Regions from separate parts of the Homo sapiens genome. Here all the other regions are linked to region 1. Evidence: fine-mapped expression QTL. A gene starts in region 1. Each other region holds a variant in brackets. All regions are shown on one strand. Distances are from middle to middle.

The links. PIP is the estimated chance that this variant, and not a neighbour inherited with it, causes the effect.
Region 2: its variant is fine-mapped to the expression of DCST1 in whole blood (TOPMed, PIP above 0.99).
Region 3: its variant is fine-mapped to the expression of DCST1 in esophagus muscle (GTEx, PIP 0.93).

What each region holds. Positions count from the first base shown.
Region 1 is chr1:155,030,496-155,038,667 of GRCh38, reverse strand. DCST1 (DC-STAMP domain containing 1) reads right to left here and starts at 4,844. Exons shown (of 17, transcript NM_152494.4): 1 at 4,814-4,844; 2 at 4,571-4,696; 3 at 4,108-4,233; 4 at 3,941-4,015. The coding sequence starts at 4,631. DCST2 (DC-STAMP domain containing 2) reads left to right here and starts at 4,887. Exons shown (of 15, transcript NM_144622.3): 1 at 4,887-5,234; 2 at 5,404-5,574; 3 at 5,900-6,001; 4 at 6,897-7,094; 5 at 7,434-7,499; 6 at 8,023-8,172. The coding sequence starts at 4,967.
Region 2 is chr1:154,871,184-154,879,355 of GRCh38, reverse strand. No RefSeq gene overlaps it. Among named protein-coding and RNA genes, the nearest start is that of KCNN3, 5.0 kb to the right of the region's middle. RefSeq lists enhancers at 426-475, 275-859, 1,445-2,030. The variant G/A (reference allele first, on the strand shown) is at 3,974.
Region 3 is chr1:155,054,777-155,062,948 of GRCh38, reverse strand. It overlaps ADAM15 (ADAM metallopeptidase domain 15), which reads right to left. Exons shown (of 23, transcript NM_207197.3): 7 at 7,097-7,159; 8 at 6,949-7,017; 9 at 6,700-6,869; 10 at 6,479-6,563; 11 at 5,848-5,996; 12 at 5,587-5,761; 13 at 5,220-5,312; 14 at 4,794-5,098; 15 at 4,508-4,703; 16 at 4,162-4,239; 17 at 2,975-3,047; 18 at 2,606-2,744; 19 at 2,117-2,186; 20 at 1,460-1,534; 3 more. The coding sequence ends at 447. All of the region lies in intron 1 of DCST1-AS1 (DCST1 antisense RNA 1), which reads left to right. It overlaps ADAM15-EFNA4 (ADAM15-EFNA4 readthrough), which reads right to left. Exons shown (of 26, transcript NR_176418.1): 7 at 7,097-7,159; 8 at 6,949-7,017; 9 at 6,700-6,869; 10 at 6,479-6,563; 11 at 5,848-5,996; 12 at 5,587-5,761; 13 at 5,220-5,312; 14 at 4,794-5,098; 15 at 4,508-4,703; 16 at 4,162-4,239; 17 at 2,975-3,047; 18 at 2,606-2,744; 19 at 2,117-2,186; 20 at 580-704; 1 more. Among named protein-coding and RNA genes, the nearest start is that of EFNA4, 4.9 kb to the left of the region's middle. RefSeq lists an enhancer at 5,402-6,212. The variant G/A (reference allele first, on the strand shown) is at 4,049.

The DNA of each region.
Region 1 (8,172 bases):
GGTGAGTAAGTGTTGTTAGGAGGTGCAGATGGCATTCCAGGCCAAAGGAACAGTATAAGCTGGTCGGGGGAGCTAGAAGATTCCTGTGTTGATGGAATGTTCACCCAATGATCGTCAAAGCAAATCCCAAATCCTTACACTTCCTCCATCTCCACTGTCGTGGTAGAGTCCCCATCATCTCTTACTGGGACTATAACCTGATGAGTCTCCCTATGTCCTCTCTTGCTACCTTACACTTCAGTTTTTACAAGGCAGCCAGAGTGATCTTGCAAAAGCATAAATCGGATCATGTCCCTTCCCTGCTTCAAACCATTCGGTGGCTTTCTACCACATTTGGTATAAAATCCGAACTCCCTAACATGGTCTACCTAGCTTGTGATCTGGCTCCTGCCTGCCTCCTGATCTCATGCTATGCAGCCCTTCACCCACCATGTCTACCCACACAGACCTCGTTGCTGCTCCTTGGACAAGCCAAGCTCATTCCTCCTCTCTGGTCTTTGCCCTAGCTGTTCCCCCTGCCAGGAGCACTCCTCTCCCTGTTCTTCACATGGCTGGCTCCACCTAGTCATTCAGGTTTGTGGCAAACCCTGTCGGGTGCCACCCCACAGTTTTTTTTGTGCCTTCTTCCTTGCTAACACAACTTGGGTTTTTTGCAAGGGCAATAGCCTGGCCCTGCCCCAGCCCCTGAGGGATAAATCTGGATCTGTCTAAACCAGTCATGGTAGAACAGGACACTGAAAGGGACTAGTTCTGTGGTCTTGGCCTTCTGGCCAAAGACTCGAGCTGAGGCTAATAGTTGACAAATAGTTGCCCTATGTTCTAATGAGAGCCCCATGGAGCTATGGGTGTCTTCTTTGGGCTCACCAAAACAGCAAAACTTGACTCTCACTCCTCTATCCCACCCCATCTATATAAAAAGAACAGCAATATGGGCCAGGCATGGTGGCTCACGCCTATAATCCCAGCACTTTGGGAGGCCAAGGCGGGTGGATCACTTGAGGTCAGGAGTTTGAGACCAGCCTGGCCAACATGGCTGTCTCAACTAAAAATATAAAATTTAGCCAGGCATGGTGGCAGGTGCCTGTAGTCCCAGCTACTCAGGAGTTTGAGGCAGGAGAATTGCTTGAACCCGGGAGGCGGAGATTGCAGTGAGCTGAGATCGTGCCACTGCATTCCAGCCTGGGGGACAGAGCAAGACTCTGTCTTAAAAAAAAAAAAAAAAAAAAAAAGACCAACAATGTGGATTTCCTGGAAGGGGAGAAAAGTGGTTGGAATGGGCAGGCAGAGAGGGAGAGTCTGTGGAGAGGATGGGTGTCACATGTCAAGTGAGAGACTCCAGGAGTCCAAGAGGCTTCAGGGACTGGCGCTGCAGGAAGGGGAACCTGCCTGGTCTCTGTAGACTAGACTCCTGCTGAGTGCAGAGCCTCATGAGGCCACTCCAGGGCTCCCACCAGAGCACAGAGTGGAGGGAGAGCTCCTGGGAGAGCTCAGCCTCTGTAATGCCTCTGTAGACCTCCCCTGGACGATGTTGGCACACAAGCATGGAGACTGGCATCTGCTTCTCATCAGGGCAGGAGAGAGGCAACCATAAGGTGCTCTGCTTTTGATGGGGCGTTGGTGGCTCACGCCTGTAATCCCAGCTCTTAGGGAGGCAGAGGCGGGAGGATAGCTTGAGCCCAGGGGTTTGAGACCTGCCTGGGCAATATAGCGAGACCCCATTCTCCACAAAAAGGAAGGTGCACTGCTTTCTCTGCCTGGCAGGGCACGGACGTGTGCACTCCCAGCCTGCTGGAGGGAGGGATCCAAAAAGCAAGAGGCTGTGGGTGGCCCCTGAAGGGGGGCTTCACTCGAGGTCAGCCAAAAAGAACTGCCCTCTGCAAGAAACCGGGCATTGCCGAGGTCCACACACAGCCTCCAAGGGGACAATAATCAGGCCTACTGGGACAGCCAGGGTGTGAGTGCCTGCTACACGCAGGCATCCACAGTGGAATTATAATAGCATTAGTGACTTAAGACTTTTGTCCCTTTTCCTCTAATTCTTCTAATCTCCCTTCTGACATCAGAAGAACCAGAAAGGGAAGGAAGTAGAGGAAAAAAGGGAAAGAGCAGGCCACGCCCCTTCTCCATTGCAGGACCCCATGCTAGGGAGCAGGCCTGAGCTGGGGGCGCAAGGGATGGGGAGGGCAAGATAAGGAGGGAAGATGCTTGAGAATGGATGAGGTTAAAAGTCTGATGTAGAGTGGACTGGACCTCTTTAACCCCTAAAAATAAGTCTTAATTGTTGAAGTAGGACTAGGTCTTCTAAAGAAATACAACCAGAAATCTAAGGGGCTGTGTGAAAGGTTATCAATGGGAAAAAACATGTTTGAATACAGTGGGTCAGAGAAAAAGTAGTCTCCTGTTGGTATCCAGCAGGATTAATTCAATAAACAGGTGATGAAATGCTAATTCTATTTCCCTTGCCTGGGACAGGTTCAGGAAAGGGCATGTGTTGCACGCAGTTCTGACCAAAGAGATGTGAGGAAGTCTACTGTGGGGATTATAGGCAAGTTTCCCTTGTTCCTAAAAAGAGACATGAGGAAAGGATGTTTCTTCCTTTTTTTTTTTTTTTTTTTTTTTTGAGACAGAGTTTCACTCTGTCACCTAGGTCATTTTCCTTTTTCCCTGGCCTCAAATCGCACAGCCCAAGACAGTGAAGTTGGGCCTGGGATTGAACTTCTATTCTTTTCTTTTTTTTGAGATGGCCTTTCGCTCTTGTCACCCAGGCTGGAGTGCAGTGGCACGATCTCCACTCACTGCAATCTCTGCCTCCTGGGTTCAAGCAAGCCTCCTGCCTCAGCCTCCCAAGAAGCTGGGACTACAGGTGTGCACCACCACATCCGGCTAATTTTTGTATTTTTAGTGGAGACAGGGTTTCACCATGTTGGCCAGGCTGGTCTCAAACTCCTGACCTCAGGTGATCCACCCGCCTCAGCCTCCCAAAGTGCTGGGATTACAGGCGTGAGCCATTGTGCCTGGCCTGTTTCTTCCTCTTTTTTTATTTTTTTCTGATCTTTGATATTATTGTATGAAGATGTGATGCCAGAGTTGCTGCAGCTATCTTGTGACCTGAAGAGAAGTGGTCAATAGACTGAAGATGGCAGAGAAAAGACAGAAGGAACCTGAGTCCTTCTCGAAGCTACTGAGCTGTTAAATTATCCAAACTGGGCTGGGCACGGTGGCTTACACCTGTAATCCCAGAACTTTGGGAGGCCGAGGCAGGTAGATCTTTTGAGGTCAGAAGTTCGAGACCTGCCTGGCCAACATACAGAAACCCCGTCTCTACTAAAAATACAAAAATTAGCTGGGCATGGTGATGGGTGCCTGTAATCCCAGCTACTTGGGAGGCTGAGCAGGAGAATGGCTTGAACCTGGGAGGTGGAGGTTGCAGTGAGCTGAGATTGAGCCACTGCACTCCAGCCTGGGCAACAGAGCGAGACTCCGTCTCAAAACGAAAACAAAAACATACAAACAAAACCAAAGCAAAACGGCTGGATGCTTGTCATCCTTGTTTACTGCTAAATCCTCAGCAGATTCTCAGTAAGTGCTGAGTGAATGAATGAATGAATGAATGAATTTAATTTCTTAGGAGGATCAGAAAACGAGGTCAGACAGGTCAGGAGAGATGAGAGTTATGAAGGGTTATGGGGTTGGACTATATCATGTGGGTGATGGGGAGTCCCTCGGAATGGAGAGACTCCCTCAGGGCAAGGACGGTGTCTTCCTTCTTAAATTGGCAGCCTCTTCCCTCTGGACCTCCCCGTAAAGCCCAGGAGGAGGCGGAAGCCACAGGGGATGTATGGGTACAGAAGAAACAAGTCCCGACTCCTTCCTGGGCATGCAGGACGGCGCTGTGTTCCACAGGCCGCTTGAGTGTTCCTGGCTTTTGCCCAGCACTAACCCACCAAGCTGTACAAGAACATAATCTTCTGTTCTTCGTAGATGTTCATGGGGTTCACCAGGAGCTGAAAGAGACCTAAGGGCACAAGGTCAAGCCAAAGGCCAAAAGATGGGTCCTAGCCCTGGTCCAGCCTCTGCCCACCCCGAACTTTCTGCTTCCACACTCACCTATGGCCAGGAGCCCCCCAGCGCCTGCCCCCAGCAGGAGAGCAGTGACAGGAAACTCGCCCGGCTGGCGCCACAGGAACCAGCTACAGGAGACTGGCAGCCCCCAGGTCAGGAGCCTCTGCACCGCTAAGAGGGGGACAGGGTAGCTCAACAGCCCACTCTTCTGCCTGGGATGGGGCTCATTAGGATTCAGGGCTTGCAGGTGGATAGAGGCTGGGGAAACCTGGCATGTGAAACAGTAGGAACTTAGGGGACCCTGGAGGAGGATGAGGGAGCCTGAGGAAGTGGTATGGGTGTAAGGGACAGCAAAGGCAAGGGCTGGGCTGGGAGGCGGGAGGCACTAGACCAGAGAGGTGGTGGAGGCGCGGACACCGAGTTGGGGGATAGTGTGCAGGAGTTCCAGGAGGAGAGATGGGATGAGAGTGGAGGTCAAGGGATACTGGGTCTCTGCTGAGTGACTCACTGGTATGAGGCTGTTTTCTTCTTTGCCCTCTTGTGCCATTCTGATGATGTTTAATGTCCATGAGTCTGTTTTGGGGAAGCACCACTCATCCCAGGTCTCCTGAAGGACCTCCTTGGACACAAGGTTCTGGTGAGAGAAGAGAGGTGCTGCCTGTCTCTTCCGCTTCATGGGAAGCCTAGGCCTGAGCTCTGGGCCTTTTAATCCTTCTGCTCCGAGAAGTGGGGAAGGAGATTAGAGACCTACCTATCCCCTCTCCAGTCCTCGGAACTGGGTCAAGGATTCCAAGACATATGCAGTGAAAGCCCTTTGGAACCTTAGAATACGGTGAGAAATTCCAGGAGCACAGAAGTCAGCGGGCATCTCCTGGAGACAGGCAGACATTTGGTCTCAGCAGCCATGCCCAAAGTCATGAAGGATGTTGTGCACCCCTTGGGGGGAGAGGAGCCTAGCATGGCGAGAGCTGTGGTTCGCAGCGTGGGAGGTTTTACCCTGGGCTTGTCTTTAGCCACGGCCTACGGGCTTCTGGAGCTACTGGTGGAAGGCCACAGCCCCTGGGGTTGCCTGGTGGGCACCCTCACTTTGGCTGCCTTCCTTAGCCTGGGCATGGGATTCTCTCGCCAGGTCCGAGCCACTGTCCTCCTGCTGCTGCCTCAGGCCTTCTCCAGTGAGCTTGGCACCCAGGGCTAGGGGGCAGGTCCTGGGGCTGGTGCTGGGGCAGAAGAGATGCTGGAGGAGAGGCAGGGGTTAAGGGAAATATTCTGAAGGCTTATGTAAGGGACTTGCTGCCATGTTTGGGGCTGGGGTCTTGGTTCTAACAAAGCTGTCGCCCCCAGGGCAGGGCCGGACACTACTGTTGGTGGCTGCTTTTGGGTTGGTGCTTCAAGGGCCTTGTGCCAACACTCTACGCAACTTCACCCGGGCCAGCGAGGCTGTAGCCTGTGGGGCAGAGCTGGCCCTGAACCAGACCGCCGAAGTGCTACAGAGGGCCAAGCAACCTCTTGTCAGTAAGTCCCCCACCTCTACCACTGTCTCCCACGGGCCCCCCTCGCCCCCCTCATCCTGCATGTTCTACAGTCCTTTGGCCTCCTTCTCTGCTGGTGCTAATCGCGGAGCATCTGGGCCTGGAAGGGACTCTGGGCACAGCTAAACCCTCTCTCCTTGCTCTCTGGCCTCCTCCACTCCCAGATTAACGATCTCCCAGGCCCCAGAATCCAGGCTTCCCGCCTCTGGAAATGGTGGCCTCCTCTCTACTCCCTGCTTAAGGGGCAATGGTGAGAACCAGCCCCTAGAGGAGAAGACTCCAAAGTGCCTCTGTCCCTCACCCATCAGGTGCCCTGAACAAGATTAAAGCTATTGCCCGGAAGACCAAAGAGGTGGCTGACCGGGTCCGCAAGTTCTTTCGGTCAATCATGGATGGTGTGAAACACATAGGTAAGCACATTAGCATGTCTATCCCGGGGACTCAAAATGCACCCAGTCCTGGCCGGGTGCGGTGGCTCATGCCTGTAATCCCAGCACTTTGCGAGGCCGAGGTGGGAGAATCACTTGAGCCCAGGAGTTTGAGACCAGCCTTGGCAACATGGCGAGACCCTGTCTCTATAAAAAATAAAAAAATAGAAAATAAATAAAACTAGCCAGATGTAATGACACATGTCTGTAGTCCCAGCTACTGGGGAGGCTATGGTGGAAGGATCTCTTGAACCCAGGGGTTTGAGGCTGCAGTGAGCTATGATCGTGCCACTGTACTCCAATCCAGCCTGGGTGACAGTGTGAGACTCCATCTCTAAAGAAAAAAAAAAGCGGGGGGGCCAGGTGCGGTGGCTCACACCTGTAATCCCAGCACTTTGGGAGGCTGAGGCGGTGGATCAGGAGGTCAGGAGATCAAGACCATCCTGGCTGACATCGTGAAACCCCGTCTCTACTAAAAATACAAAAAGTTAGCCGGGCGTGGTGGCACGCAGCTGTAGTCCCAGCTACTCAGGAGGCTGAGGCAGGAGAATCTCTTGAACCCAGGAGGCGGAGGTTGCAATGAGCCGAGATCACTCCACTGCACTCTAGCCTGGGCAACAAGAGCGAAACTCCATCTCAAAACAAAACAAAACAAAACAAACAAACAGAAACAAAAAAATTCAGTCTCCTCACCTGTACCCTGTCCAGGGTTTTTTGGGCCCCTTCTGGGCGCTGGCTAGTGTTCACTGGACACAGCACAGCCAGGTCCCTGACCACAGGCCTCTCCAGCCCTGGATACTGTGGTATTGTTCCCCAAAACCCTGAGAAGAGGCTGTAGGATTCCAGCCCTGGGTGCCAACCCTGCAGCTGTCCCCAGCCAGGGCTCTCCGGAATGTGTGGCAGTGGCTCCTGCACATCGGCGATGTGTGCAACTCGGAACTGGGCAACCCTTACCTGAAGTGTGCACGGGTTTTCGATGATGCCAAGGACAGCTGCATGATGGTCATACCACAAGCCTACCACCTGTGTTACGTGCTCATGCCCTTCAAACTGGCGCTCTGTGGACTTGCCAGCCGTGAGAAAACCAGGGTCTGCCAGCGGGGAGGAGCCGATGTGGGGTGGGGTGGGGTGGGAATGTGGGGGTCAGTTGGGAGGGCAGGCTCAGGAGGACGATTAGAGGGCAACAGAGAGGAACCAATAAGCTTGGTAGGACCAGTATTGGGGGTGGGGGTGGGCAGTAGGGAGGGACTGGTGTTGGGAGAGAAGGGCGACAGGGAGGTGCTACAAGGTTTTGAGCAAATGTGGAGGCCAATAGGAAAATCGAAAAGAGGCCCTGTGAGAAGAGGTCTCCAGAGGTCGGGGGCAGGCCTGGCTGTGCCCCTCCTTCCGACACTCAGCCGACTCCGCCCCTCAGTGGTCCAGGTGTTCTGCGTCATCCCTAAGTACATTCAACCCTTCTTGCGCCAGACCATCGGCACCCGTGAGTGACCCCCTCCTGCCACATATGGTGCTCCCTAGTGGTCTCCCTCCCTCATCCCGGTGTGGCCATGGCCAGCCCCCAGTGCTCCCAGCCCATAAAGGAGAATGTAAGAGAAAGAAAGGGGCTCAAGTGATCACCCAGGCCCATATCCATGCTGTACAGATCAGGAAACGGGTCCAGCGAAGGGCCAGTGCCTCACCACAGCCTGCCCTGAGAGCAGGAGCTGGGAACAGAACCAGGGCCTCCTGTCCACATTCAGGTCCACACTCAGGTCATCAAGATCATTCCTTAGGGGCATCTGTTGCATGCCCTGTGTCATGCTGGGTGCTGAGCATGTGATGGCGATGGCACAGATACGTGGAGGCTTTGTCCCCTCCTCAGTCCACCTTGACCCAAGCACTGGGGGGTTCCCAGCTGGTCTGTAAGCTGCGCCCCCTGGGCTGTGCCAGGCCCCTCCCCAGGGGCAGCTCCACCCTCTCCTAACTCTCCTTGCCCACGTCTCCCCTGAACCTGCTGGCCCCAGCCGTGATTCAGTTGCTCAACCGGGTGCGTCAGGAGTTTGAGTTCAACATGACAGCCACCCACCACTTCTCTGTGGATCTCAATGCCTCTCGGAGCCTGTCCCAGGTAGCCATGGACCTCCACGAGGCTGTCAGCATGAAGCTGCACCGTG
Region 2 (8,172 bases), 160 kb after region 1:
CCCGACTGCGGTGTCCATAGCAACCCTCCGGCTGCCACCTTTCCCAGGAGCGAAGGGAGGCAAAACAAGGGCGGGAGGCAGGAGAGGGGCCTGGCCTTCTGCAGGATTCCTGTCAGAGGGCTGGGCACCCAGGTTGCAGCTCCTGACTGTGCCTGGTGGCTGTGCTGAGGGGAGAGGGGGCTTCTTCCCTCGTTTCACAGCAGCAACCGGGAGTGGAGCTGTGTTGGTGGATGCCCCATAGCAACCGAGAGATGATGGACCAGTTGAAGGGGACCATCGCGGAGGCCGGGCTCGAGTCCCGGCTTTGTGCCTGACTCACGAATGAGTACAGGCAAGTCCCCTCCCATCTCCGGAGGTCTTCTCTTGCTAATAGGGTGGTGGGCCTGGAGGCGCCTCTGGCATCCTGTCCAGCCCTCTCATTCAAAGGCTTTATGGTGCCCTCACCCGGGACAGACAACAGATGGTTTCTTCTTCCCCAATGGTGAAAAAACCCAAGGAAGCCTGGGAAATAAGAGCGACTTTTGCAAAATATTCACAGAAGTTGATTCTGGCACCAGATCCAGTCCCTGGGCCTCCATGGAAGGAAGCAGAAAGCTGAGGCCGGGGTTCAGATGCTGTCTGGGGGCTCCCTCGCATCTCCCAAGGTGCCTGGAGTGCGAAGCTATGTGCATACGCCACCAGCAGAGGCCGCCACACTCCTCACAAACCCGCCACAGGTTGCTCTGCCCCCATCCCCATGGGTGAGCACTGACCAGCTCGGACCGCAATCTCAGAGCCAGGGCGGGGCGGGGATCTGCTACTGGCCACCTGGGGTCCAGGGAGGGGCTGGCTCAGGGGGCTGTGGCCTCAACTGCCAGCCGGCCCTGCTCGTCCCTCACTGCCCTCCCTGTGGGAGAGACATCCATCCAGGCCCACGAGACACTGGCCGCCTTCTTCCCTGCTAGGAATCCATGGCTGCTCCGGTCTGGGCCCTCCCTTGGGCTGCTGCTCAGGTGCCTGTTCTGCATTTGGGAAACTGTTAGAGTTTTTTTTTTTTTAAATTATTATTATACTTTAAGTTTTAGGGTACATGTGTACAACGTGCAGGTTTGTTACATATGTATACATGTGCCATGTTGGTGTGCTGCACCCATTAATTCGTCATTTAGCATTAGGTATATCTCCTAATGGTATCTCTCCCCTCTCCCCGGAAACTGTTAGAGTTTTTATTTTCTGTGAGTCGTTTGAGACTGGGGCCAGGAAGCTGATTTATTCAGCAAATCTGAATTGAGAACATGCTCTATGACAGGCCCTGTTTTGGGCACTGGGGTTATAGCAGTGAATAAAATAGACGCAAATCCCACCCTGTGGAGCCAAGTCTCCAGTGGGGGTGGGTGTCATCACCTACACCACAGTGTGGGGCTGGGCAGGACACACGCACCCAGGATGGCAAGTGATGGCTCTCTCTACCGAGTCGGCCCCATGCAGACAGTGGACCTACCCAGACTCTGGGGCCGAGGCTTCCATGCTGAGCCCTTGTCAGTCAGGGGTCTGCACAGACCCCTCTCTTGTACTGGCCAGTGCACGTCGGCAGCACTTCACCGTGTGCAAAGTATGCACCTCCACTGGCTCCCTGTGAGCCCGGCAGGCATCTTGGTGACAGAATGTTGGCAACCTGTGCCCATTTCCCATGCCTTCTTTCCAGACACGGTATCAGCACCTTCCATTCGACCTTTGACTCCCTCAAGTAAATAAACGTTCCCATCCGGACTGACTCATCTGGTTAGAACAACAAGTTCCTACACCAAAGCCTCAGAGAAGGGGTCAGGAGACACATTTTAAAATGTATCTCAGTTTTCACAAGACAACTGTGCAGGAGGTGTGAACGATCCCAGTTTCACAGGCTCAGAGGGGCGCACCTTGCTCGTCATGGTCCCTGGCAGGAAAATGGCAACTCGGAATCAGATGGACCGATTCCCAGCCCAAGACTGCTCTGGTGCCTGGCCTGGCCTGGCCACTCCACTGTCTTCTCTCCATGTTAGGGCCATCCTGGCCTCTGCAGAGTTTTAGAAGCAGAATCACCAACCTTTGTCCAGACAGATCTCCATGGAGCTGCTCTTTTGAAACCTTTTCCCACTCCTGTTGTTAGAGGGGGTTTCATGGAGGACCTGGGTGGGAGTGGTGGGCAGGAGGGATACTTTCTCTGGAAAGCAATGAAGTTCAGTAGCAGAGGCTGAGTGGAGAGGTTGTGACCTCTCAGAGCGCATAGACCTGTGTGGCTCATGGCTTGGACTCTCCCCTCCCACTGTGAACAAGAGCAGGCCAGTTAACCTTCTCTGAAATTTGACTCAGTTTCTTCATCTATAGAATGGGCATACTAACTTTACTCCCTGGCGTGTTGGAACCATGAATGCCCACAGTTGGCCCTCAGTAAATGCTCCAAGTGTAGGGAGTCAGGCCGTATGTCCCCTTTACCTTGACACTCAGATGATGCAAAAGAGCTCCAGTTTTTCTTTAGCAAAGCAGAGTATGGGGAGGAGCCTGTGTGAAGCTGAAGACTCCTTGGCACCCATAGGTGGCTGAGAGTTGTTGGTGCGTGGCCAGGGGACAGGTGACATGCTGTAGTCCTACCTTGCTCCTCAGATCATGGCTTGCAGGGGCAGGGGTTAGGTGGGCATTCATTATAAGAGGCTTCACCCAGGGTCTAGACATCCAGGGACTCTCAGGAAAGAAGTGTGGACAGAAGGCCTACACTTACCAGTTGGCATTCCTGGTGGCCAGCCGGGCAAGTAAGGGGCAAGTAATGTGTCCTGGGTCAAAGTGCCCAAACTCTCAGTCAGGCTAAACTCACTCACCCTCTTACCTGCTTATGTATTCAACACACAATTTGGGTGCAGCGTGAAGTGCAGTGTTTTGTGTGTGTGTGTGTTTTCCAATTTATACCATAAGCTCCTGTCACCAAGGAGCTTATGGTGTCAATTAAAATCAGGGAAATTAGCCAGGCGTGGTGGCGGGCGCCTGCAATCCCAGCTGCCCGGGAGGCTGAGGCATGAGAATCGCTTGAACCTGGGAGGCGGAGGTTGCAGTGAGCCAAGACTGAGATCGCGTCACTGCACTCCAGCCTGGGCAACAGATTCTCTCTCTCTCTCTCTGTATATATATATGATAAAATCAGGGGAGAGAAGACATATATCTATAGACAACACCAGTACAAAGCAAGAGGTGAACAGTGTCCCCAGAGAGATACAATAAAGTGCCAAGGGAATTCGGAAGAGGGAGATAATGTCAAATTGAGGGAGGAGAGGAGGGGAGGTCAGGGAAAGCTCTGGGCAGGGGTGGCACTTGTGCTGCTCCCTAAATTCTCACAGGACAGGACACAGAGCAAGAGGTGGGCTGGAAGGGCTTTCCAGGCAGAATGGATGGGAAAGAGCACAGACAGACCCAGGTTCAAATCCATGCCTAACTGGTGACCTTGAGCAAACTACTGAAACCTTTCTAAACTCTAGTTCATGGGAGTAAGAGTGGCAACGATGAGGCAATAGAACCTCCCCAGCCAGCCTTCCAGGGCTGCCAAGAGTTGCAAATGAAATATTTTACATAAAAGCAGTTGGAAAACTATAAAGTGCTCTGCAAACACAGGATTTGTTTTTATTATTGGAGCATTAATTAATCCAGTAATGAAGCTCCTAGATAAGAACACAGTAATGACTGAACCCACATGGGCTAATGAGCTGTTCAGCCTAAAGCTGTCCAACCATTCAGAGTCTGAGAAAGGGGGTGGTTAATCTTTATGACCCTATCCTTACCAGGTTAAGGGTATCCCTCCAACACCACTGGCTTTTCTAGAAAACCTGCCATTATCTGTCATTTGTGTCTAAACTCCCTCCATCCATCCATCCATCATCCATACATCCATACATCCACCCATCTATCCTCCCATTCATCCGTCCGTTCATCCATCCATCCATCCACCCACCTATCCACCCATCCACAC[G/A]TCCATCTGTCCATCCATCCTACTATCCATCTGTCTAATAAATCTTTTTTTTTTTTTGTGATGGAGTCTTGCTCTGTTGCCTAGGCTGGAGTGCAGTGGTATGGTCTTGGCTCATTGCAACCTCCGCCTCCTGGGTTCAAGCAATTCTCCTGCCTCAGCCTCCTGAGTAGCTGGGATTACAGGCGCTCGCCACCACGCCCAGCTAATTTTTGTATGTTTTTTTTTAGTAGAGACGGGGTTTCACCATGTTGGCCAGGCTGGTCTTGAACTCTTGACCTTGTGATCGGCCTCCCAAAGTGCTGGGATTACAGGCGTGAGCCACCAGGTCCGACCAATAAATCTTTAATGAGTAATTCATAGCCAGGCACCGTGATCAGTGTTGGGGATACTGAAAAAATTTAGAGCCCTTTTATGCAGGTCACAGCCTGTGGGAAAGACAGCCATATAAACCATGAACCACTACTTTTCTTAAACCTATTTTCAGTTAGTTCTACCTTTTGGGGATAACAAGGTCTACAGACAATAGATTATGGAATTTTAAAGCTGAGTGATCTTAGAAATCATCTTTTTTATCTCACTATTTTACGGATGAGGAAATTGTGTTTATGATTTGTTGTGAAAAGTACTGTGACTTTCCCTTACTTGCCTTCAAATGACCTCATCCAGGTTTCAAGTTTAGTCAGTTCGATTAATCTTTACTAAGCATCTATTGTAAGCGGCTCTTCGGAAGAGCTGCAGTACAGCTGTGAAGAAGACATCATCCCTGCCCTCAAGGAGGTCATGGTCTATGGGCAAAGGACACATATGGAGATAACAGCTGTGTTGCTCCGTAGAGGCCCTGTTAGCACAGGGCACTGAAAATACAGAAGGAGCTCCTGATTTGGGTTTGGGGAGTTCAGGGGAAGCTTCTCAGAAAGAAGACCTTTGAGCCATGTCTTGAAAGGCAAAGAGAAATGTGTTAGATGGAAATCTGGGGGAAGGGCATGCCAGGCAGAGGGCATGGAGATGTGAAATAGCATGACTTACGGGAGAGCTACAATAGGTCGGTGATGCTGGGGCTTAAGGAGGAAGGTGGTGAGGAATGAGCCTGGAAAGGAGGGCAGAAACCGAGTGCCAGTACACTTGATGTGGAGCCAGTATGGCCAAAGGCCACCCCTACTTTCCTTGTCTGCTCTTCCTGTCTCTCTGAGGTAAGAAGCTCCTCCACACCCCCGTTTGCAGACTAAAGAGGCCTAATTTGTCAGCCTGTCATCTTAGGGCAGCATAAGGAGTTGCTCCCCATTCCTTAAGGTGTGGCTTAAGTCCCACCACCTCCAGGAAGCCACCCTTGACAACCCTCTGCCTTCAATGAACTCTACTGTCTCGCCCACACTTTGGGATCTGCATTGCTGTTTTTTGTCACCCCATGTAAGTATAACTTGTCTCTACAGTGAGACTTTAAGTTCCTGAGGGTTGGGTGTGTGAGTCACATGGTAATGTTTAATAAACACCAGTAAGAATGAATCCTTTAAATTTGGGTTTCAGGACATATGGCGAGGGTTTGTCAAAAGGTTGGACAGGCCTGGGTTTGATTCCAGCTTTATGGCTAGTTACTAATTAGTAACTCTGGGCAAGTTTTAAAATCTTTTTAATGCCTCAGTTTTTTCATCTATAAAATGGGTGATGGCCTCAACTCACAGGCTGCTGTGAAGACATGGTTGTGGCTGGGGGCCAAGGGAAGCATTGGGGGCTTTTCAACAGTGGGGCTTTGGACAGGCAGCAACAGCGGGAAGACGCCTGAGTGCGGTGCATCTGGAGGGCAACGTGGAAAACCTGACATGATCAGGCCCTGTGGTTGAGAGCTCCCAGCTGATTCACTAACCTGTCGGTGCTTGACAGTTACAAAGTACTTGGCCGGTGCTCTCATTGGACTAAGGAAATTGAAGGCCTGAGAACATAAGCAACTGGTCACAAAGTGGGCGAGTGGCAAAGCTTGTGCTGGTGAGAAGGAAGGCAGAGGGTGGAGCGCACAGCCTGTATGTAATGATATAGGAGGCAGTAATATGCTGATAAATGTTGAACAGCCAGGAAAGATTTAGCAAGCGGCTTCCAGGAAAACATAAGCTCTAATTTACAGTGTTAGCCGATTTCTGTGGTGTAAATACTCTGATCATGGCTGATTTCAAGCTGCTAATGTGACATCACTGTGGAGTTAGGAAGAGATGTGTATGGATGATCAGAAGGTCATCTTGCCTGTGGTCACACAGCCATCCCTGCAGCAGAGAACGGTTCCAGCCTGGGCAGTCTGACACTTGAGCCCAAGCTCTAAACATGACATTGTCCTCCTCCTCCTGTTCATGACAGGATAGCTGTAACAAGGGGCATGAGCTGGCTCCGTGGCATCAGCTGTCAAGTTCCAGCCCATTTCCAGATAACCACTGATCTTTGGTGCTGGCATAGTTAGGGCTCTACCCAAGCTATCTTTCATCCTTATCCATGATGGCAGGACGTGCTCTGATAGGCCCCATTTGGATCCCATTGGCACAGCCAGAAGAACTGGAGGCAAGAGGCTGGCCAGAAAGGTTAGCTGAGGCAGAAGGCAGCTCATGGGGGTAGAGTGAGCATAGGAATACCCAGGCCTGGAGCCTGTTCTCCAAAATTGATTTTTCACAGCCCAGAAAACTGTATCCAACACTAAAAAACCAACACGAACAGCACATTTTTGCTACTAACAACATATTCATGATAATTTATTAGAGGATCATTAAACCTAAGTATGCGATCTGGAGCCTTGAACCAAGCAGGTGGCTCTGTCTGCGGATGGAGGAGAGGGAGGGAAATCAAGAATACAGAAGGGAAGGGCAGGGAAGGCAGAGGATGCTGAAGGGGTTGGGGGTGGGTTCTAGAGGGCTTGGTCATGGGAAAACACATGAGACCCCAGGCTTGCATCTGAGGCCTGGTACTGTGACTTCTAGTGTGTGTGTGTGTGTGTGTGTGTGTGTGTGTGTGTGTGTGTGTGTGTGTGTTGGCAGGGGTAGGGGAAATGATTATGTCATTGATATCAAGATTATTATTTTATATATATATATATTTAGAGACAGGGTAACACTCTGTCGCCCAGGTTGAAGTGCAGTGGCGCTATCACAGCTCACTGCAGCCTCAAACTCTTGGGCTCAAGCAGTCCTCCTCCCTCAGCCTCCTGGGTAGCTGGACTACAGGCACTCGCCACCATGTCCAGCTAATTTAAAAAATTTTGTAGAGTCTGGGTCTTGCTATGTTGTCCAGGCTGGTCTCGAACTCCTGACTTCAATCAACCCTCCTGCCTTGGGCTCCCAAAGTGCTGGGATTATAGGCATGAGCCACCATGCCTGGCCAGAATCAAGATTATTGTGCAAGAGTAATTGTCACGTATCTGGGGTCGTGGCTTGTATTACAAGTAATATTTAGCTCTCAATCATCAGGGTTAATGGGGGATTGGAGAGGTGAGAACTGATATACAGAGGGGACTCTGGGCTCATTTTGGGGGGGCTCTGTCCCTCCCTGATCTGGACACTTGCTGCTTACCAGTCAGGAATGCTGTTTTAGGAGCTTCCTATGTGTATATGTGTGCATGTGTGCATGCATGGGCTAGTGTGTGCACACAACCATGTACACATGTGCACATATGTCCACCTGCTTACATGTTTTCTGGATGTGTGTCTGTGTATGTGTGCATGGATCTCCTACCCTTTCCTCTTCCCATCGAGGGAGGGAGCTGGACAGAGGCCAAAGGGTGATGGGGAATCAAGAGCCAGAGAGGAAGAGGCCTGCCTTTTAAAACCCCAGGTGTTCTGGGGAATTCCCTCATGGTGACTTCCTTTCTGATTCCTAAGGCTGCTGTGGTTAGAAATGAAAATGAATTCAGCTCTGGTCCCATCCTTTGGAACCCCCTCTGCACACAGTGGGGGCTTAATAAATACTTGATGATGATGGTTCTGAACCTGGGAAGCCAGCAGCTGTTCCTAGTTCTGACTCTCAGAGCCCCATGGGGCAAATCAGGCAGGGAATGACCATGGGGGAATCTTCAGTCTTCCTGCCAGATCCCCCTGTGACTACACACCCAGCTGTTAGGGAAGGGGCTGGAGCCATGGTCCACTTCACACACCCTGCTTTGGAGAGGCCAGTTCTTCCTCAGCAGCTTCTCTTTTGTTTTCCCCAACTAACATTTGAACAATATTTAT
Region 3 (8,172 bases), 24 kb before region 1:
ACCCCAGTCTGGGCAGAGGGAAGCTGCGAGCATCCCGGGGACACACGCCGACCCTTTCTGGTACTCCCGCCCCACACAGCCCGCCCTCGTCTGAGGCGGCAGCGTCTTCTGGCGGCCAAACCTGGAACCGCAGCAGGAGCGACCCGGGTTCTAGAAGCAGACAAACTCTGGGGAACGCTCCCAAGATGTCACGTTTATTGCAACTGAGCAGAGACAGGCTGTGCGGACCTTCCTCAATCCCGTCCAACCCCCAGCCCCTCCCCAAGCCCCCGCTGCAACTACGCCGGCAGGTCCGCAGAGTGTTGCTTGACAGCGCGTGGCGGTGCCCGGAGTCTTAAGACACCGCCAGTCTCTGGCGCCTTCAGTCATGGTAGGGGACTCCAGAGGGCACGCCCGCCTCTTGAAGCCCTAAGTCCGGCTTGGAGGCAGCGGAACCTCCGGAGAGGTCAGAGGTAGAGCGAGGACACTGTCGGAGGCGGTGGCGCTGGTCTGGATTGCGGGAAGCCAAGAAAAAAGAGTCAGAGGCCCCTTTCCCCCAGGTCACTCGCCCCGCCCACCCATGCCCAGGGCTCCTCCTACCTGGAGGGTACCACTAGGGGCGGGATTCCAGCCCCTGGGCCGGGCAGGTCACCCGATGGGCACCGGCCCTGGGGGTCGGCAGGCAGTGGCTTCCTTGGGGGTGGGGGCTTGGCTGGCCCCTGAGACTGAGGGAGAGAAGGCAGGAGGCCGGCTTAGGTGGGGGGGTGTCATGTTGCCCACCCCCAACGCACTGGTGCTGGGGAACACCAGCTTGGGGGCAGCACCAGCGGTCACCCTTGTCTGCAAACAAACCTGTCACCATTAAAGGCACCACCGGGATATGTGCCCTCATGCACTGAGGGGGCATCTCGCCACGGCCACCACCGTCATGGCTACCAGCACCACAGCCCTAGGTGGGGGGAGAGGCCGTGCCCTTCTCTCCCCCCACCGTTACCTTCGGGCTTCTCACCACCGGGTCAGCGGGCAGAGGGCGGGTAGGGGGATTGGGTCGGTCAGCCAGCTCAGCCTGAACAGAGAGAGGGGCAGTGGCTGTGAGAGCATAACCAGGGGCTGTGGACATGCACAGAGATTCCCCAGAGGGGTTCAAGTCAACATGCAAAGTCAGCCAGGGGGCAGGAGAGAATGAGGGCATGCGCAGAGGGCTTGGAGGCATGCCAGCTGATGTCTCAGGGGAGGAAGGTGTAGGTCAACCGCAGTCCCTGGCCGACTGCAGTCCCGCCATTGACCACCAGATGGTGGTAGAAACCAAGGCAGGAGGCTCACCCTTTGCTGCTTCTGGGGCTCAGAGTGTCTGAAGGCTGAGGGGCACCCCGATCACCTAATGAAGAGCACCACTGGCAGGGAGCAGGGATGAGAACTGCAGTTGGGTACCAAGCCTCCCACCTGCCTTGGCTCAGGGCGGGCCCTGGCCCAGATTTACCTGGAGTCTCTTGGACACAGGGTCAGGCGGCAGCGGCCTGGAAGGGGGGGCCGGGAAGCTGAGAGCACTAGCCTGCTGAGAGGGCAGGAGGGGCAGATAGGCACAGAGGGGGAAGAGGAAGCAGAGAGACAGAGTGGGCAGGGAAGGGTCAGTGCCCAGGGGGGGCCAGCAGGGGCCCAGGGCAGTGGGTGCTGTGCATGCAGTTATGCAGGTGCATGCAGGTGGGGAGCGAGTGGGGAGGAGGTGTGCACACACTCCCATCATCCAAGCAGAGGGCTCAGGGTGGGGATGCTCACCAGCCCTTCTAACATGGTGACCTGGGCCTACGGAAGGCCATTCTGAGCACCACTGCCCTTGTGCCCTCCTGGGGTCACTGCTGGGGGCATGGATAGATCCACCTCTCAAAGCCACCTCTTGGCCAGCGGACGGAGCCCAGCAGCTCCTGCTCCAGCTGGCTGCCCTCCCCACTCTTCTGGACTCAGCTTCCCTGCCTGTAGCCAGGGGAGGGGAGGGCAGGGCTGGCCCTGACTCCTTCGACTGACTCTTGGGCAGTGCTAGCCTTTCTCTGAGTCTGGAGCCTTTAATGCGCACCCCCCAGGGCCCAAGCTGGATGCCCGGCCAAGGTGGAGTCCCCTTCCTCTGGCATCCAGGACTCACCTTAGTGCCTCGTGCCAGCAGGGCCCTCTGCGGAGGTCCTGGCCGTTCAGAGGGACCAGATTGGGCTGCCCTATGCATGAGGAAAGGCAAGAAGGGAGAGGGCCCAGCCTCAGACCCTGTTTTCTACCATATGCCATCCCTGAGTGGGGTTAACCCTTTGCAGGCACTTATGTGTGGTTTAGGTAAAATTGTGGTAGGGCCGGGGTGGGGGGCAGTATTTATTAGCTTGAGGGAAGACCCTACTTATCCAGCACAGGGGCTCCTGGGGAGAAATGGCCCTAGCAATCCAGCCACCCCACAGGGGCACAGCTGTGAGGTAAAAAGCTGTGGGCACATATAGGGAAGGGAGGTGTGGGGTATGGCAGTCAGCAACTTTAAGGTCCAAGGGGCCTGGGGCTCAGAACCAGGTGGCAGGGGCTGCAGAGGTGAGGCAGCCTTCAGCACTGTCCCCAGTTGAAGGAAGTGGTAGCAGGGAGGTGATGCTCATACCTGTACTGGCAGGTGGGTCCCTTGAGCTGGCAGAGTCGCTGGTGCAGGCGGGCACGGTACCAGTAGCTGGCACCAAGCATCACCAGGACCAATAAGACCAGGAGGCTGAGGAGCAGCCCTGTGGTCAGGGAGCTGGTTGCTGTGGGCGGAAGTCAGGTTTAAGGGAGGACGGGGCTAAGAACTCTAGATCCATGAAGGCGCAGGGGGCAGGGAGTGAAGTCAAGTGATCAGGGAGAGTGAAGGGTTCAAGGGGCACAGACTCAGGGAACCAGCAGCAAAGGGGGGTCAGAAAGAGAGGGCCGAGGGGGCAAGATAAAGCATGAGACGCTTTGCCCTCCCAGCTGCCCCTGTCCCCCACCCCCATGCTACCTTTGAGCTGAGTGGTGCAGTCAGGGGGTGCCCAGCCCTCCTCACAGTAGCAGTGCCTGTTGCTGTCACAGACCTAGGAGGTACAAGGCGAGCAATGAGGAGCTCTGCACTCTGGAACTATTTCCTTGTCTCTAGCTTTTCAAGATCTCAGATTTCTACAACTGGGGGTTGTGCTGGGTATGTGTGTAGAGACAGCCCGGAGGGAGGGTCTTTATCCATACCAGAGCAAATTAGATCAAACTAACACTTACTGAGCTCCTTCTGTGTGCTGGGCACTGTGGTACATGCTTTCTTTCTTTGTGTTTGTTTTGTTTTGTTTTATTTTATTTTATTTTAGACAGCAAGTAAGATGGAGTCTCACTCTGTTGCCCAGGCTGGAGTGCAGTGGTGCAATTATGGCTCACTGCAGCCCCAAACTCCTGGGCTCAAGCAGTCCTCCTGCCTCAGCCTCCCAAGTAGCTGGGAGCATAGGTGTGCACCAGCAGGCCTGAATAATTTTTAAATTTTTCCTTGAAAGAGATGGGGGTCTCACTATGTTGACCAGGCTGGTTTTGAACTCCTGGCCTCAAGTAATCCTCCTGCCTTGGCCTCCCAAAGTACTGTGATTTGGCTGGGTGCAGTGGCTCACCCCTATAATCCCAGCACTTTGGGAGGCTGAGGCGGGAGGATCACTTGAGGTCAGAAGTTCAAGACTAGCCTGGCCAACATGGTGAAACCCATCTCTACTGAAAATACAAAAATTAGCTGGGCATGGTGGCGGGTGACTGTAATCCCAGCGAGTAGGGAGGCTGAGACATGAGTAATGTTTGAGCCTGGGAGGCAGAGGTTGCAGTGAGCCGAGATCACGCCAGCGCACTCCAGCCTAGGCAACAGAGCGAGACTCTGTCTCAAAACAAAACAAACAAACAAACAAAAAAACTGTGATTATAGGCATGAGCCATTGTGCCCAGCCTGTGCTAGATGCTTTCATACTCATCTCATGTACCCTGGATGGGGATACTATTATTATAGCCATTTGATAGGTGGGGAAACTGAGCTCAGCAAAGTTAGTAACCTGCCCGAGGTCACACAACT[G/A]GGAAGTAGTAGAGCAAGGATTAAAACCCAGATATGTCTATTTCCAAAGCCCAGTATCCTTTTCCTCTCTAGAGGCTCTCTGCTCCCCTTCCACTTCCCCCATCCCAGCTCACCCCATGTCCATGGCATTTGCTTCGACATTCCTGTGCCCCCAGGAGATCCACACGCTGGCATCGATGGTCTATACACACCTGACCCAGGGAGAGAAGAGCCTGGATCAGATTCCCACAAAGCTTTAATGGGACTGGGAGGCCAATAAGGTTGAGGCCATACCCTGCGTTTACAGATGGGGAAACCAAGGCATAGTGAGTTGATAGGACTTTGCTCCATCTGAAGTAAGAAACTGACTTCCCTTGGAGTCCCTGCCTTTGACATTGGTGAATGGTGAAGTCTGGGCTCTGTTCATTGTGGTCCAAATGTCCCTTCTCACACCTGGTCTTGCCCACCCAGGCTGCTCACCAGGCCAGGGCCACAGGCTGTGCCAGGCAGAGTCAGGAGGGGCTGGGCCACATCACTGCCCAGGTCCAGGTGCACCCAGCTGCAGTTCAGCTCAGTCCCATTCACATCTATTGTCTCCCAGAGTAGATCCCGGATGGAGCCCAGCAGAGGCTGGGTCCTACCTGTCTGGCACTGGAGCTGCCCACAAATGGCATCTCTGTGGGGAGGGGGAAGGGCACACAGAGTTAGTAGGAGCAGGGCCAAGGCTCTCAGAAACCCAAAGGAGGAGCCAGGTTTCCTCACTTACCTAGGGGTGCAGGACACATAACTGCCACTGGGGTTGCGCCCACAGCTCCCAAAAGCATTTCCCCGAGTATTAGCTGTCTGGAGGCAAAGTGGCGCAGCGGGCTGGGCTCCAGGTCCCCAAAGTGACTGGCACTGCTGGGCATAGGAGGCACAACGCCCGTGCATGCACACAGCTTGCCCGCCAGCGCAGGGCTCGCCATCCCCTAGGCTGACATCAGGGGGACACTGGGAGCTGTCTCCTGGGCAGAATTCAGGCAAGTCACAATCCCCTCTGGTAGGACGACACTGCCAGCCAGACGGGCGCAGCTGTGGAGGGTGGATGAGCATCAGTGTGGGCACTGAGCAAATCCAGCCGGGGGTCAGAATGACCCTTTCCACCTTGGCCCCGGCAGGTGAGCTCCGGGTGGCCAGTCTAGTCTCTACCCACCTGGCAATTTTGACAACAGGGTCCGTCAGATGCACACTGTGCACCTGGCCTCAGCTGGCAGGTCAAAGAATCACAGCAGGGATCGACGCAGTCCTGTGGGCAGGAGCACGGGGGCCGGGCATCAGAGCAGGTGGGGCCTGTGAGCCTCCCTCCAATCTCTCCTCCTCCCACAGGCCAAGACCAGAAGCTACACAGCAAGCGAGGGCTAGAGCCCAACAACCCATGTGCTGTCCCCACAGACAGGGCAAGTAGGAGAGGGGTGGAAAGTCCCTTCAGAACCCAAGAGCTCAGGAGGCTGGGATAGGGCTAATGAGCCAGGGTGAGGGTACAGAAGTGAGTGGGGCGAGGCTTTGGGAAAGGGGCTCACATCCAGGAAGCCACAGTCACACTGCTCGCCCGGCTCCACAAACATATTTCCGCAGAAAGCAGCCATAGGGGGTAGGCTAGGCAGCCGTTCGAAGAGGCAGCTGCCCATTCCATCCAGGAGGGCTTTCTCCAGGGCCCGTCGGCTGCAGTTGCTGAAGTTCAGGCCTGGTAGGAAGCTGGGGAGGGTGGCAAGGAAGGTTGGGGCTGGGGGCCTCTCCCTGCCCCCTGCCCCACACCCTCTCTCCATCCTGCAGCTACTTACTCTGTGGAGGCCTCCATGATGCAGGTCTTGGCTGGGGCTGGACCTGGACAGGGGCAGCTATTCCCAGGCAAATCATGGTCCAGGCCCAGGCTGTGGCCCAACTCATGGGCTATGGAGGAGGCGACTCCCAGGATGCTGGTGGAGTGGTCCTGTCATTGGGGAGGGGTACTGTAGGTCCAGTCCCAGCCTGCCTCCACCACAATGCCCAGACCACCCTCTCTGCTCCTGTTCCCTCCACGTCTGACCTCGTGGGCACTCAGCAGGCACTGCTTCCCTCCTGAATTGCTTCTAAAGTAGGAGAACCCAGGCCTGGATGGCAGAAACTTGGGTTCTAGCTCAGCTCTGTCCCCCTCCCTCACTGGAGGGAGATCACCTCTGTTCTTTGGGCCTTAGCTGCCTCCTACCCTCCTCTAAGAAATGGGAAGACTGCACAGGGGATGACTGTGTACACTGTGACTAGCTGGCCATAAGCGAGGGCTCCCTGATAGCAAAGGCCACATCACGTACCTCCACCCTCTATACCTGTAGCTTTGGGGTTGGGCAACTTTATAGGGGGGTTTCAGTGCATAAATGCCACCACACTTGGGAGGAACTGAATTGGGAATGAGGAGGAGACCTGGAAATAACTCACCATGTTCACACCTCCTGAGAAGTCAGGAGAACAGATGGAGTTCTGAATGGCCATGCCCACCGTAGGCCCAGAGAATGAAGTACCACTGTGGGACAGAGAGGCTAAAGTTCAGGGCCAGAAGCCACGGTGGTCAGAGCTTCAGGGGCTGAGGTAGGGTGCTGAAGGGGTGTGAATTTGGCCAGGACAGGACTGGCCTCTCTGGCTGAGTCTGGGGCCCTTACGTCACCAGCTGGGCACTGTCATGGGGCAATCGAGGCAGCAAATGTGCCCTGCGCCAGTGGAGGAAGTTTTCGAGGGTGACAGCTGGGTTTGGGCTGATCTCCACCAGGTCACGCTGGGTCCAGGCCTCCAGGCCCACTAGTGCCACTCGTACATTCAGGGGCCGGAAGAACTGAAAGACAGCTGGGGCTCAGAAGAGGGGTTGCCATGGTCAGGGGCCTGGGGTGGGGGTTGCCCTGTCCAGCACTCACTGTGTCCAGCAAGAGGGCCACTTCCAGTGTGCGGTTTAGCAGGTGCTGGAAGTCCCGGTATTTCTGGGCCTGTAGGCCAAGAGAGGTGACATGAAAGGCGGCAGGGCAGTGCAGGGGGAGGAGGATGTGCAGGGGCCAGCAGGCTCACCTCCGAGTGATCAGCCACAATCACCAACTCCACAGTCTTGGTCTCTGTTACCACATCCCGCCTCTACTATGGACAAGAAGAATTATCAGGCAAACCTGCCGCTCGCAGCCAGCAGCTGTGCCGGGCTGACCAAGAGGCAGCCACTCCTACTCTGTGGGTCAAATAGGAGGGTGAAGAGCCCATTTTACAGATGAGCCACTGAAGGCCAGAGGGCCCAGGAACTTGCCAAGGAGGACCAGGAAGTAGATAATGAAGGTTGGAGTAGACCCCTGCTTTTCTGGCTCCAAACTCAGTGGTTTTTTTCAAATTTTTAAAAAACAGTAATTTAGCTGGGTGCGGTGGCTCACGCCTGTAATCTCAGCACTTTGGGAGGACAAGGCGGGTGGATCATGAGGTCAGGAGATCGAGACCATCCTGGATAACACGGTGAAACCCTGTCTGTACTAAAAAATACAAAACATTAGCCGGGTGTAGTGGCGGGCGCCTGTAGTCCCAGCTACTCGGGAGGCTGAGGCAAGAGAATGGCGTGAACCTGGGAGGCGGAGCTTGCAGTGAGCCGAGATCATGCCACTGCACTCCAGCCTGGGAGACAGAGCGAGACTCTGTCTCAAATAATAATAATAATAATAATAATTTTTAAAAATCCCAATAACAACTCTTGTCACTTACCATAGGTCTGGCATAGTTTTAAGCACTTTACATCTATATGGACTTATTTAATCTTCCCAGCAACTCTATGCAGCAAGTAGTTTTATTATCTTCATTTTACAAATTAGGAAATTGGGTTTATATTGCTTCATCATTGGTAACTATGTATTATCTATAACCAAGTGAGAGCTCTCTGCAAATGGGATCATAAGACAGATGAAGAGCCAAATACAACTAATAAATGGATAGGCCATTTATTAGTTGTAGGGCCTCGGGCAAACCACCTAATCTGTCTCAGCTAGATTTTATTTTATTTTATTTTTATTTTATTTTTTGAGACGAGGTCTCACTCTTTCACCCAGGCTGGTGTGTAGTGGCTCGATCTCGGCCCACTGAAACCTCTGCCTCCTGGGCTCAAGCGATTCTTC